Linked DNA regions of Homo sapiens: region 1 is linked to region 2. The links come from fine-mapping of genetic effects on gene expression. A gene starts in region 2. The other region holds a variant in brackets. All regions are shown on one strand. Distances are from middle to middle.

Evidence for each region. PIP is the estimated chance that this variant, and not a neighbour inherited with it, causes the effect.
Region 1: its variant is the best candidate, but not a certain one, in a credible set for the expression of PSMD4 in whole blood (INTERVAL, PIP 0.61).

Annotation. Positions count from the first base shown.
Region 1 is chr1:150,985,376-150,990,895 of GRCh38, reverse strand. It overlaps ANXA9 (annexin A9), which reads right to left. Exons shown (of 14, transcript NM_003568.3): 8 at 4,481-4,560; 9 at 4,235-4,294; 10 at 2,940-3,024; 11 at 2,710-2,805; 12 at 2,555-2,613. Among named protein-coding and RNA genes, the nearest start is that of ANXA9, 5.8 kb to the right of the region's middle. The variant C/T (reference allele first, on the strand shown) is at 2,444.
Region 2 is chr1:151,252,235-151,257,234 of GRCh38, reverse strand. PSMD4 (proteasome 26S subunit ubiquitin receptor, non-ATPase 4) reads right to left here and starts at 2,501. Exons shown (of 10, transcript NM_002810.4): 1 at 2,427-2,501. The coding sequence starts at 2,452. RefSeq lists a silencer at 2,240-2,379 and an enhancer at 2,420-2,609.

The DNA of each region.
Region 1 (5,520 bases), 270 kb after region 2:
TGAGATTACAGGCATGAGCCACCGCGCCTGGCCTGTTTATTTATTTTTTTTGAGGCAGGTCTCACTTTGTCACCCAGACTGGAGCGCAGTGGCGTCACCTCGGCTGACCGCAACCTCTGCTTCCCAGGCTCGAGATTCTCCTGCTTCAGCCTCCCAAGTAGCTGAGATTACAGGCGCTCACCACTACCCCCTGGCTAATTTTTGTATTTTTAGTAGAGATGGGGTTTCACCATGTTGGCCAGGCTGGTCTTGAACTCCTGGCCTCAAATAATCCACCCGCCTCAGCCTACCAAAGTCCTGGGATTACAGGCATGCGCCACAGCGCCCAGCCCGAGTTTTTCCTTTTTAGAAACAATTCAGAATTAGCCAGATATGGTGGCCTACGCCTGTAATCCCAGCTACTTAAGACACAGAGGCCAGAGAATCACTTGAACCCAGAAGGTGAAGGCTGCAGTGAGCTGAGATCACGCCACTGCACTCCAGCCTAGGCAACAGAGCCAGACTCTATCTCAAAAAAAAAATTTTTTTTTTCAGAAAAATGGGCCTATGTTATTTTCTGACTACCACTTCTTTTTTTCTTTTTTTGAGACAGGGTCTTGCTCTGTTACCCAGGCTGAAGTGCAGTGGAGTAATCACAGCTCACTGTAACTTCTAATTCATGGGCTCAAGCAATCCTCCCACCACATCCTCCTGAGTAGTTGGGACTAGAGGCAGGTGCCACCATGCCTGGCAAATTTTCTTCTTATTTTTGTAGAGACGAGTTCTTGCTATGTCGCCTAAGTTGGTCTTGAACTCCTGACCTCAAGCGATCCTCCCACCTTAGCTTCCCAAAGTGCTAGGATTACAGGTGTGAGCCACCATGCTTGGCCCCTGACTACTACTTCTAAGATAAATCTTTTATCTACACTCAAGAGTGTGGGTCTTGTAATCCAAATACACTACAAAATCATCTACTGCTGGGATAGTTTGTATTTATGACAGGAATTTGGACAGATAAGTACAACTCTTCAAATGAATCTTAGTGTTGACTCATTATAATCATACAGGCTTTATTGGGCAAGTATAATAATCTACTGTCAAGATAGAAATCTCTAGATGACAGAACAATTGCTTATATTTACTAACTTTTGGGCAATCATCAACATGGCATGATGGCTTCTCAACCAGTCTACAGAAAGCTATTCCATCTGCCAAAATGATAACTACTTTTTTAGTCTGACTGTGTCACCCAGGCTGGAGTGCAGTGGCGTGATCTTGGTTCACTACAACCTCCGCCTCCCAGGTTCAAGCAATTCTCCTGCCTCAGACTCCCAAGTAGCTGGAATTACAGGTGCCTGCCACCATGCCTGGCTAATTTTTGTATTTTTAGTAGAGACAGGGTTTCACCACGTTGGCCAGGCTGGTCTCGAACTCCTGACCTCAAGTGATCCATCCACCTTGGCCTCCCAAAGTGCTGGGATTATAGGCGTGAGCCACTGCGCCCTTCCTGAACTTTTTATTTATAGATTTTGGGGGACAGTTCTACTAATAGGAGACCTAATTCAATCAACAGAATAACTGGATTCTATTGGTGGAAGCACTCAAGCCACAGTCAGCAGTTTAAGTACGGATAATATGGGCTGGGCGCAGTGGCTCACGCCTGTAATCCTAGCACTTCGGGAGGCCGAGACAGGTTGATGACCTGAGGTCAGGAGTTTGAGACCAGCCTGACCAACATGGTGAAACCGCATCTGCTAAAAATACAAAAAATTAGGATAATGTGGTGGCGGGCGCCTGTAATCCCAGCTATTTGGGAGGCTGAGGCAGGAAAATCGCTTGAATCCAGGAGGCGGAGGTTGCCATGAGCCGAGATTGTGCCACTGCACTCCAGCCTCCAGCCTGGGCAACAAGAGTGAAACTCCATCTCAAAAAAAAAAAAAAAAGTATGGATAATGTGGAACAAAATCTGACCAGCGTGGAGAAAGGGGGCCTTGGGTGCTAAGAGCACTTATCGTATAGCTGACAAGGATGGTCAATATCTTACATCGTGAAGTGTTGTGTAGGGAGACTGTATAACTTACTAGCTACGTGACCTCAAGCAAGGTACTTAACTTCTCTGGGCTTCAGTTTTTTCATCTATAAGATACGGATGGATATGGTTGTGAGGATTAATTGAAATATGTGTGCCCTGCTCAGGATAGGCTGTGGCACACAATCAGCACCTGCAAAATGCCAGCCCTTGTCATTATTCTTGCTAGTGTTATCACCATCACTCTGGCAACAACTAAGCCTGCACAAGGCACTGTCTTACAGAGCAGATTCATATCTCTATTTGGCCACCTAGACATTAACAAGGCCAAAATGTTAGTTTCAGGGCCCCTGGGAGCCAACTAAGTTAGTTCTCACCACAGCTCATTCCTCCACCCCTGTGTAAGCCCTGGTGTGTAAGCCCTGGGAAGGAGAG[C/T]GGCTTGAGGTTTAGACGGTGTATATAGGATGGTTACATAAGCAGCAAGCTGAGACTTCCTCTCTCCTCCCCAGTTTCTGTTCTGGGGAGGGAAAGGAGTGCCCCTCTCACCTGGAGGGCTTGATGAAGTTTGTCAGCAAAGTACAGCGGTGTGTTCTTGATCACCGAAGCTGGAAACAAAGATGGAAGGATGGAGGTTCACAACTAGGACCACAATCTCCCATCCCAAGAGAGACTTACTTCACAAATCCTGAGCAGGCCCCTACCTAGGCCGAGCAGAGCCACCTGAGCATCTCCATGGAAACGGTTCTGGACAGCCTCCTCCAGCTCTTGCCCAGTGCTCCGCTGGTACTGATCAAACACTTGTGTGTGTAGGAGGCAGTTAGAAAGATGGATGGGGGATTAATTATCTCTGGAAAGGATGGGCCCTCCCCACCTTCCTCAGCCCAAACTGATCATTAGAGCAAGCTAGGGGGACAAGAAGGCTTGTGTGTACCTCGGATGAGGTGTTCAGGATTTCGCTGGGTGAAGACTGGGACCCATGTTTCCTCTCTGCTAGGTCCTTCTGCCCGCTGCAGTGCCTAGGAGGGAGGAATGAGTCAGGGAGGAGTCAATCAGGATCATTGGTTGGGGCCTAGGGAGCCATGGGTATGACGTTCCAGAATCTATCATCATCATGATGGAAATGGGATTGAGGGTGGAAAAGGATTTTTTTTTTTTTTTTTGAGAAGGACTCTCATTCTGTCACCCAGGCTGGAGTGCAATGGTGTGATCCCAGCTCACCACAACCTCTGCCTCCCAGGTTCAAGTGATTCTCCAGGCTCAGCCTCCTGAGTAGCTGGGATTACAGGCACTCACCATCATGCCTGGCTAATTTTTGTATTTTTAGTAGAGACGGGGTTTCACCATGTTGGCTAGGCTGGTTTCGAACTCCTGACCTCAAGTGATCCACCTGTCTCGGCCTCCCAAATTGTTGGGATTATAGGTGTGAGCCACCACGACCAGCCAGAAAGTTTATTTTAACCCGTAAACTAGGTTTGTGTGTGTGCGTGTGTGTGTGTGTGTGTGTGTGAGAGAGAGAGAGAGAGAGAGCGAGAGAGATGGGGTCTCTCTCTGTCACCCAGGCTGGAGTGCAGTGGCATGACCAGGGCTTACCTCAGCCTCAACTTCCCAGGCTCAAGCGATCCTCCCACCTCAGCCTCCTAGCTAGCTGGAACTACAGGTGCAGCTAATTTTTAAAAATATTTTGTGGAGATAGAGTCTCACTATGTTGCCTAGGCTGGTCTTGGACTCCTGGGCTCAAGTGATCCTCTTGTTTCAGCCTCCCAAAGTGCTGGGATTACAGGTATAAGCCACCATGCCTGGCCTACTAGTTGTTTTTATTTATGTTTTTTTATCTTATGTTTTTTATTTTTTAAGAAAGAAATAGGGCTAAGAGAGGGCTCTGCCCTTACAGCCTCACAGCTCTATTCACTGATTTGGAAAAATCCTGGTACCCGAGGATTAAATAATCCCCAAAAGGTCTGAGGAGGCTTTCTGCCCCCAAACGCTCATGAGAGGAGAATATGTCAGTTGATGAGCTCAGGAGTCAGAGGCTAGATGAGTGAAAAGGCTTCAGCTATGACGCTACCTGACACCTCCTGCCCCTACCACATAACTGAGAACTCCCTCTCCAAGGCAGGGATGGGTTTGCGGGAAAAATGGGCACGTAGGTCACCGGCTCTAAGATATGGTGGAGGAAGGCATCTTATGTGCATGGCGGCTGTGCACACTCCTAAACCCCCTGCTCACCTGGACATCTTGTTCTGCCAGATTATAGTCAATGATTCCAGAGTAGCTGTCACGGCCCCCCTAGGAGGAGAAACTGTTCTTAGAGGGCTCTTTGAAGGGCACCTTTTTATCTTCAGACCAACAAGCGAAGGCTGGTCTCCCCTAAAGCCCTCTCTTGTCCATTACAGGACAGCAATGCTCCCTGCTCCAGCGTGTCTCCTTGCCTGGTGAACGTGACTCCCTTCCTTGCAGGTCAGTCCTCCTCACCTTGGCCAGGGCCAACAGCAGGTCCTGCAAGATGCCACTGGTCTCAGATGTGATGTCATCCACAGCCTCCACCTGGAAATCTGGGGTGGGGTGAGGAGCTCTCTGAATCCTCCTGAGTTTTCCTAGTGTAGATATCCCCAGGACCTGCCAAATGCCTGACCCGCTATACCCTGCCAGCCCTGCTAGCCCCTGCTTGGAGTAGCTTGATGGCTGCTAATTCCCAGGATGTAAGGCACAAGTACCATCACGGCCACTCTAAAAACATCTCTAAGTTGTGAGGTGTGCAGTGGCTTCATCACCAAGCACCAACCTGCTGGGCAGGAGGCAACCATTATTAGAGTTGGGGCCAGGCAGTGAAGAAGAGCTAGGGAAACCCGTATTATAACACAAGATGGTTAGGACCTGGCACCCTCATTGGAGGTAAGGAAAAATGATATGAGAGGTGGGATATGAGGAAGGAAAAGAGCAGGAAAGGGAGAAAAAGAAAGAGAAAAGGGAAACAGATGCAAGAAGGAAGGAAGGTAGGAGAGGGATTAAGAACATAGGCCACGGCCAGGGCGGTGGCTCATGCTTGTAATCCCAGCACTTTCAGAGGCTGAGGCAGGAGATGGCTTGAGCCCAGAAGTTCGAGACCAGCCTGGACAACACAGCGAAACCCCATCTCTACAAAAAATACAAAATTTAGCTGGGCATGGTGGTGGCACACCTGTAGTCCCAGCTACTTAGGAGGCTGAGGTGGGAGGACTGATTGAGCCCAGAAGGGTCAAGGCTGCAGTGAGCCATGATGACATCACTGCACAGCCTAGGCTACAGGGCAAGACCTTGTCTCAAAAGAAGAACATAGGCCAAGATTAGACATCAAAGGAAAATTGGGGAAAGCAAGAAAAAGAGGTAGGGGTGGGGGGAAGGGGTGGTAAGATGAGGATGGGAAAAAGCCACAAATTAGTGGGTGAGACACTTGTAGCCAAGCAAGGCCAGCCATCAGGGACATGAAAGGTGACACCCATGACTCAGAGGGCAGATTCCCACCTTTTCCTCAG
Region 2 (5,000 bases):
TTTGACAAAGCTGACAAAACAAGCAGTGAGGAAAAAGAGTCCCTATTCAATAACTGGGGATACTGGCTAGGCTAGCCATATGCAGAAGATTGAAGCTGGACTCCTTTCTTATACCATACACAAAAATTAACTGAAGATGGATTAAAGACAAGGTAAAACCCAAAACTATAAAAATCCTGGAAGACCGGCCGGGCACAGTGGCTCACGCCTATAATGCCAGCACTTTGGGAGGCTGAGGCGGGCGGATCACCTGAGGGTGGGAGTTCGAGACCAGCCTGACCAACATGGAGAAACCTGGTCTCTACTAAAAACACAAAATTAGCTGGGCGTGGTGGCGCATGCCTGTAATCCCAGCTACTAAGGAGGCTGAGGCAGGAGAATCGCTTGAACACGGGAGGCGGAGGTTGCGGTGAGCCGAAGGTTGCGGGGAGCTGAGATTGTGTCATTGCACTCCAGCCTGGGCAATAAGAGCGAAAAAAAAAAAAAGTGGGCAAAGGAGCCGGGCACAGTGGCTCAACGCCTGTAATCCCTGCACTTTGGGAGGCTGAGGCGGGTGGATCACCTGAGCTCAGCAGTTTGAGACTAGCCTGGCCAACATGATGAAACCCCGTCTCTACCAAAAATACAAAAAAGCTGGGCGTGGTGGCGGGCACCTGTAATCCCAGTTACTCAGGAGGCTGAGGCAGGAGAATCACTTGAACCAGGGAGGCGGAGGTTGCAGTGAGCTGAGATGGCGCCACTGTACTCCAACCTGGGCAACAAGAGCAAAACTCCTTCTCAAAGAGAAAAAAAAAAAAAAAAGTGGGCAAAGGACATGAACAGACATCAGACACTTTATTTTTATTTATTTATTTATTTATTTATTTATTTTATTATTATTTTTTTTTTTTTGAGAGGGAGTCTCACTCTGTCGCCCAGGCTAGAGTGCAGTGGCGCCATCTCGGCTCACTGCAACCTCCACCTCCGGGGTTCAAACGATTCTCCCACCTCAGCCTCTGGAGTAGCTGGGACTACAGGCGTCCACCACCACGCCTGGCTAATTTTTGTATTTTTAGTAGAGATGGGGTTTCACCATGTTGGCCAGGCTGGTCAGTAACTCCTGACCTCAGGTGATACACCCACTTCAGCCTTCCAAAGTGCTGGGATTACAGGCCTGAGCCACGCCCCAGCCAGACACTTTTCAAAAGACGATATACATACAGCCAACAAGCCTATTAAAAAAACCTCAATATCACTGATCATTAGAGAAATGCAAATAAATCAAAACCACAACGAGATACCACCTAACACCAGTCAGAATGGCTATTACTAAAAACTAAAAAAATAACAGATGCTGGCAAGGTTGCGAGAAAAGAGAACACTGTTCTATCGTTGGTGCAAGTGTAAATTAGTTCAATCACTGGGAATCACTTGAACCAGGGAGGCGGAGGCTGCAGTGAGCCAGACTGGGCCACTGCACTCCAGTCCGGGAGACAGAGCGAGACCGTCTCAAAAAAAAATTATTCATCGTTTATCTGAAACTCAAATTTCACTGGGCATCCTGTATGTTATCTGGCAATGCTATGCTCCCCCGAGAAAATAAAAAGAAGAAATCTCATAGGTGCCTGTTTCACCCAATCGGTGATTTGTGTTCGTCAACTATTCTGTATTACATTCAGTGATTACACTTAGAAGGAACTCTTGAAACCCTGCAAAAATTTATGTCCTCCTCTTCTAATGTGACTCGTAATAGGTACTCAGCCCAAGCCTGAAACTGACAAAGAGAGCTACCTCACCGGATAAAGCCTTTGTGTCAGACAGCCGTGGGTTTAAATCTTGACTCCACCACTTAACTAGCTGTATGATTTTGGACAAATCACTTAAAATCGCTGAGACTCGGTATCCTGAACCGTAAAATGGAGAGATAATTTACCTTAAGGTGTGGTTGTGAGGTATAAGTGAGATAAACAAAATGACTGATACATAAAAAGCAATCTGTAAATGGTACCTTTGAAGATGATACAGGGAAAGGTAATGAAGTTAGAGACGAGGGAATGGGGAGAGGAAGGGATTAATAATCTATTTTCCTAATAGACGTTATTTTGCAAAGAAAGGAGGGCAGAAAACTATTACGATGAGTCCGAAAAGCAGAACTGTAGCTAAAGACAGACCCGGGCTGCTCTAGAGAAGACGGCGCTAGAACAGAGAAAGGAAGCAGGAATGACCAGTCAATGACCGTCCCCCTGGGGGTAACAGTGGTAACCCGGGACTATCCGCCACTCCAGGGCCCCGGGATGACTCAGGGAGTCCAGCGGGCTCCTTACCTCCGGGGCCAGGGCCGCCTCTCGCCCATGAGCCCCTGGCCCCCACCCCAGGCCCTCCCTGCCTTGGCGCTACACGCGCCCGGAACCCAGCTCTGCCCCTCCTGCCCCGAAGTAGCTCCTCACCACACCATAGTGCTTTCCAACACCATCTTGCCACCTTCCTCCCTCCCGACCGGGTCTCCGGGACGGCCTAACAACAACTCCTCCAATTGGCCCGTCGCTCTTCACCAATCACAGACCTCGGCTTGGCCAGCTGCTTCCGCCTCCGTCCCCCACGTTGCGTTCTGGGAGTTGTAGGTGCCGCCAAACAAATTTGTAGGCGTCTTGAGGGTAGTTGAAGGGAATCGCGGTAACACAAAAAACAGGATCTAGCCTCCACTTTCCCTGCCATTGCAGTTCTCAGTTGGGGTTTCCCGCTGGCCGGATCTCAGGGGAGCTATGGAGGAACCTTTGAAAGTGCTGTGTCGATTCCGGCTTCGGCATTTTAAAAAAGTGTCGGGATCGGCCGAGCGCGGTGGCTCACGCCTGTTAGCCCAGCACTTTGGGAGGCCAAGGCGGGCGGATCACGAGGTCAGGAGTTCGAGACCAGCCTGGCCAGCATGGTGAAACCCTGTCTCTACTAAAAATACAAAAAATTAGCCGGGCATGGTGGCGCACGCCTGTAATCCCCGCTACTCGGGAGGCTGAGGCAGGAGAATTACTTGAACCCGGGAGGCAGAGATTGCAGTGAGCCGAGATCGCGCCACTGCACTCCAGCCTGGGGGACAGAGTGAGACTCCGTCTCAAAAAAAGAAAAAAAAAAGTGTCGGGATCGCTAATGACTTTCTACAGCCCTCAGTTCCCTGTAGAATTTTAATTCAACAAGCCCTTATACCCTTCAATTGAATTTATTTGTATATTTATCTCCTCCCTCGTTTAACTAAGGGTGGGCAACGTGCCTTTTTTTTTTTTTTTTTTTTTTTTTTTTTTTTTTTTTTTGAGACGGAGGAGTCTCGCTCTTTCACCCAGGCTAGAGTGCAGTGGCTCGATCTCGGCTCACTGCAACCTCCACCTCCTGGGTTCCAGGGATTCTCCTGCCTCAGCCTCCCAGGTAGCTGGGACTACAGGGGCATTCCACCATGCCCGGCTAATTTTGTATTTTTAGTAGAGACGAGGTTTCACCATGTTGGCCAGGCTGGTCTCGATTTCCTGACCTCAGATGATCCACCCACCTCAGCTTCCCAAAGTGCTGGGATTACAGGCGTGAGCCACCACACCTGGCCGGCAACGTGTCTTAATCTTTACAATTCCCTAAGCCCAGTACAGAGCCCGGAAAAGATTTGACAACTCAATTATATTAACTAATCTGCCAAAGAACAAACCACTAAACCGTTTTGGTTAATCAAAAATTACATTCAAGGCCTGATGCAATGGCTTAGGTTTTATAATCCCAGCGTTTTGGGAGGCCCAGGCAGGAGGATCAACTCAGGCTAGGAGTCTGAGACCAGCCTGGACAACACAGCCAGACTCCGTCTCTACAAAGTTTTATTGTTTGAGACAGGGTGTCGCTCTGTTGCCCAGATTGGAGTGCAGTGGCCTGATCTCGGCTCACTGCAATCTCCACCTCCCGGGTTCAAGCCATCCTCCTGCCTCAGCCTCCTGAGTAGCTGGGGCTATAGGTGCATGCCACCAAGCCCAGCTAATTTGTTTTTAATTTTTTGATGTGGGAGGATGGCTTGAGCGCATGAGTTCGAGACCAGCGTAGGCAACATAGCCAGACCCCATCTCTGAAAAAAAAAAAGTCTCAAAGTGTTGGGATTACAGGCGTGAGCCATCACATCAGCTGGATATTTGATATTAAGCAATTTTTTTAGGCATGATAATAGTGTTAAAGTTATCACCCTTATAAAAGTAGGCTTTATTAAGGGTTATATGTTGTATTCATAGATAAAAAAAGTATATGAAGTTTGGGATTTAACTTAATCCTCTGGAAGAAACAAATAGTTTTGTTTTTTGAGACAGGGTCTCAAAGTAAAACAAAAGAGACAAGGTCTCACTGGGCTGGAGTGCAGCAGTGGTGCAATCATACATAGCTCACTGCAACCTCTAACTCCTGGCCTCCCATCTCAGCCTCCGAAAACTGGGATTACAGGCTTGAGCCACTGCACCCGGCCACGCTGGTCTTATTTATGTTGATAATTATTGAGGCTGGGTTATGTGTACATAGTGGTTCACCATACTACTCTACTTTTGGTTTGGAAATTCCCATAATGAAAAAAAGAAGGCCAGCTGGGCACGGTGGCTCACGCCTGTAATCCCAGCACTGAGAGGCCGAGGTGGGCAGATCACTTGAGGTTGGGAGTCCGAGACCAGCCTGGATACCCCCGTCGCTACAAAAAAATACAAAAATTAGCTGATTGTGATGGTGCCAGCCTGTAGTCCCAGCTACTTGAGAGACTGAGGTAGGAAAGTCGCCTGAGCCCAGAAAGTCAAGGCTAGAGTGAGCTGAGATTGCTCTGGGTAACAGAGCAAGACTAAAAAAGAAAACCAAGGCTGGGAAATCTCAGCACTTTGGGAGGCCGAGGCGGACGGATCATAAGTTCAGGAGATCGAGAACATCTTGGCCAACATGGTGAAATCCCATCCTACTAAAGATACAAAAATTAGCCGGGCATTGTGGTGGGTGCCTATAGTCCCAGCTACTCTGGAGGCTGAGGC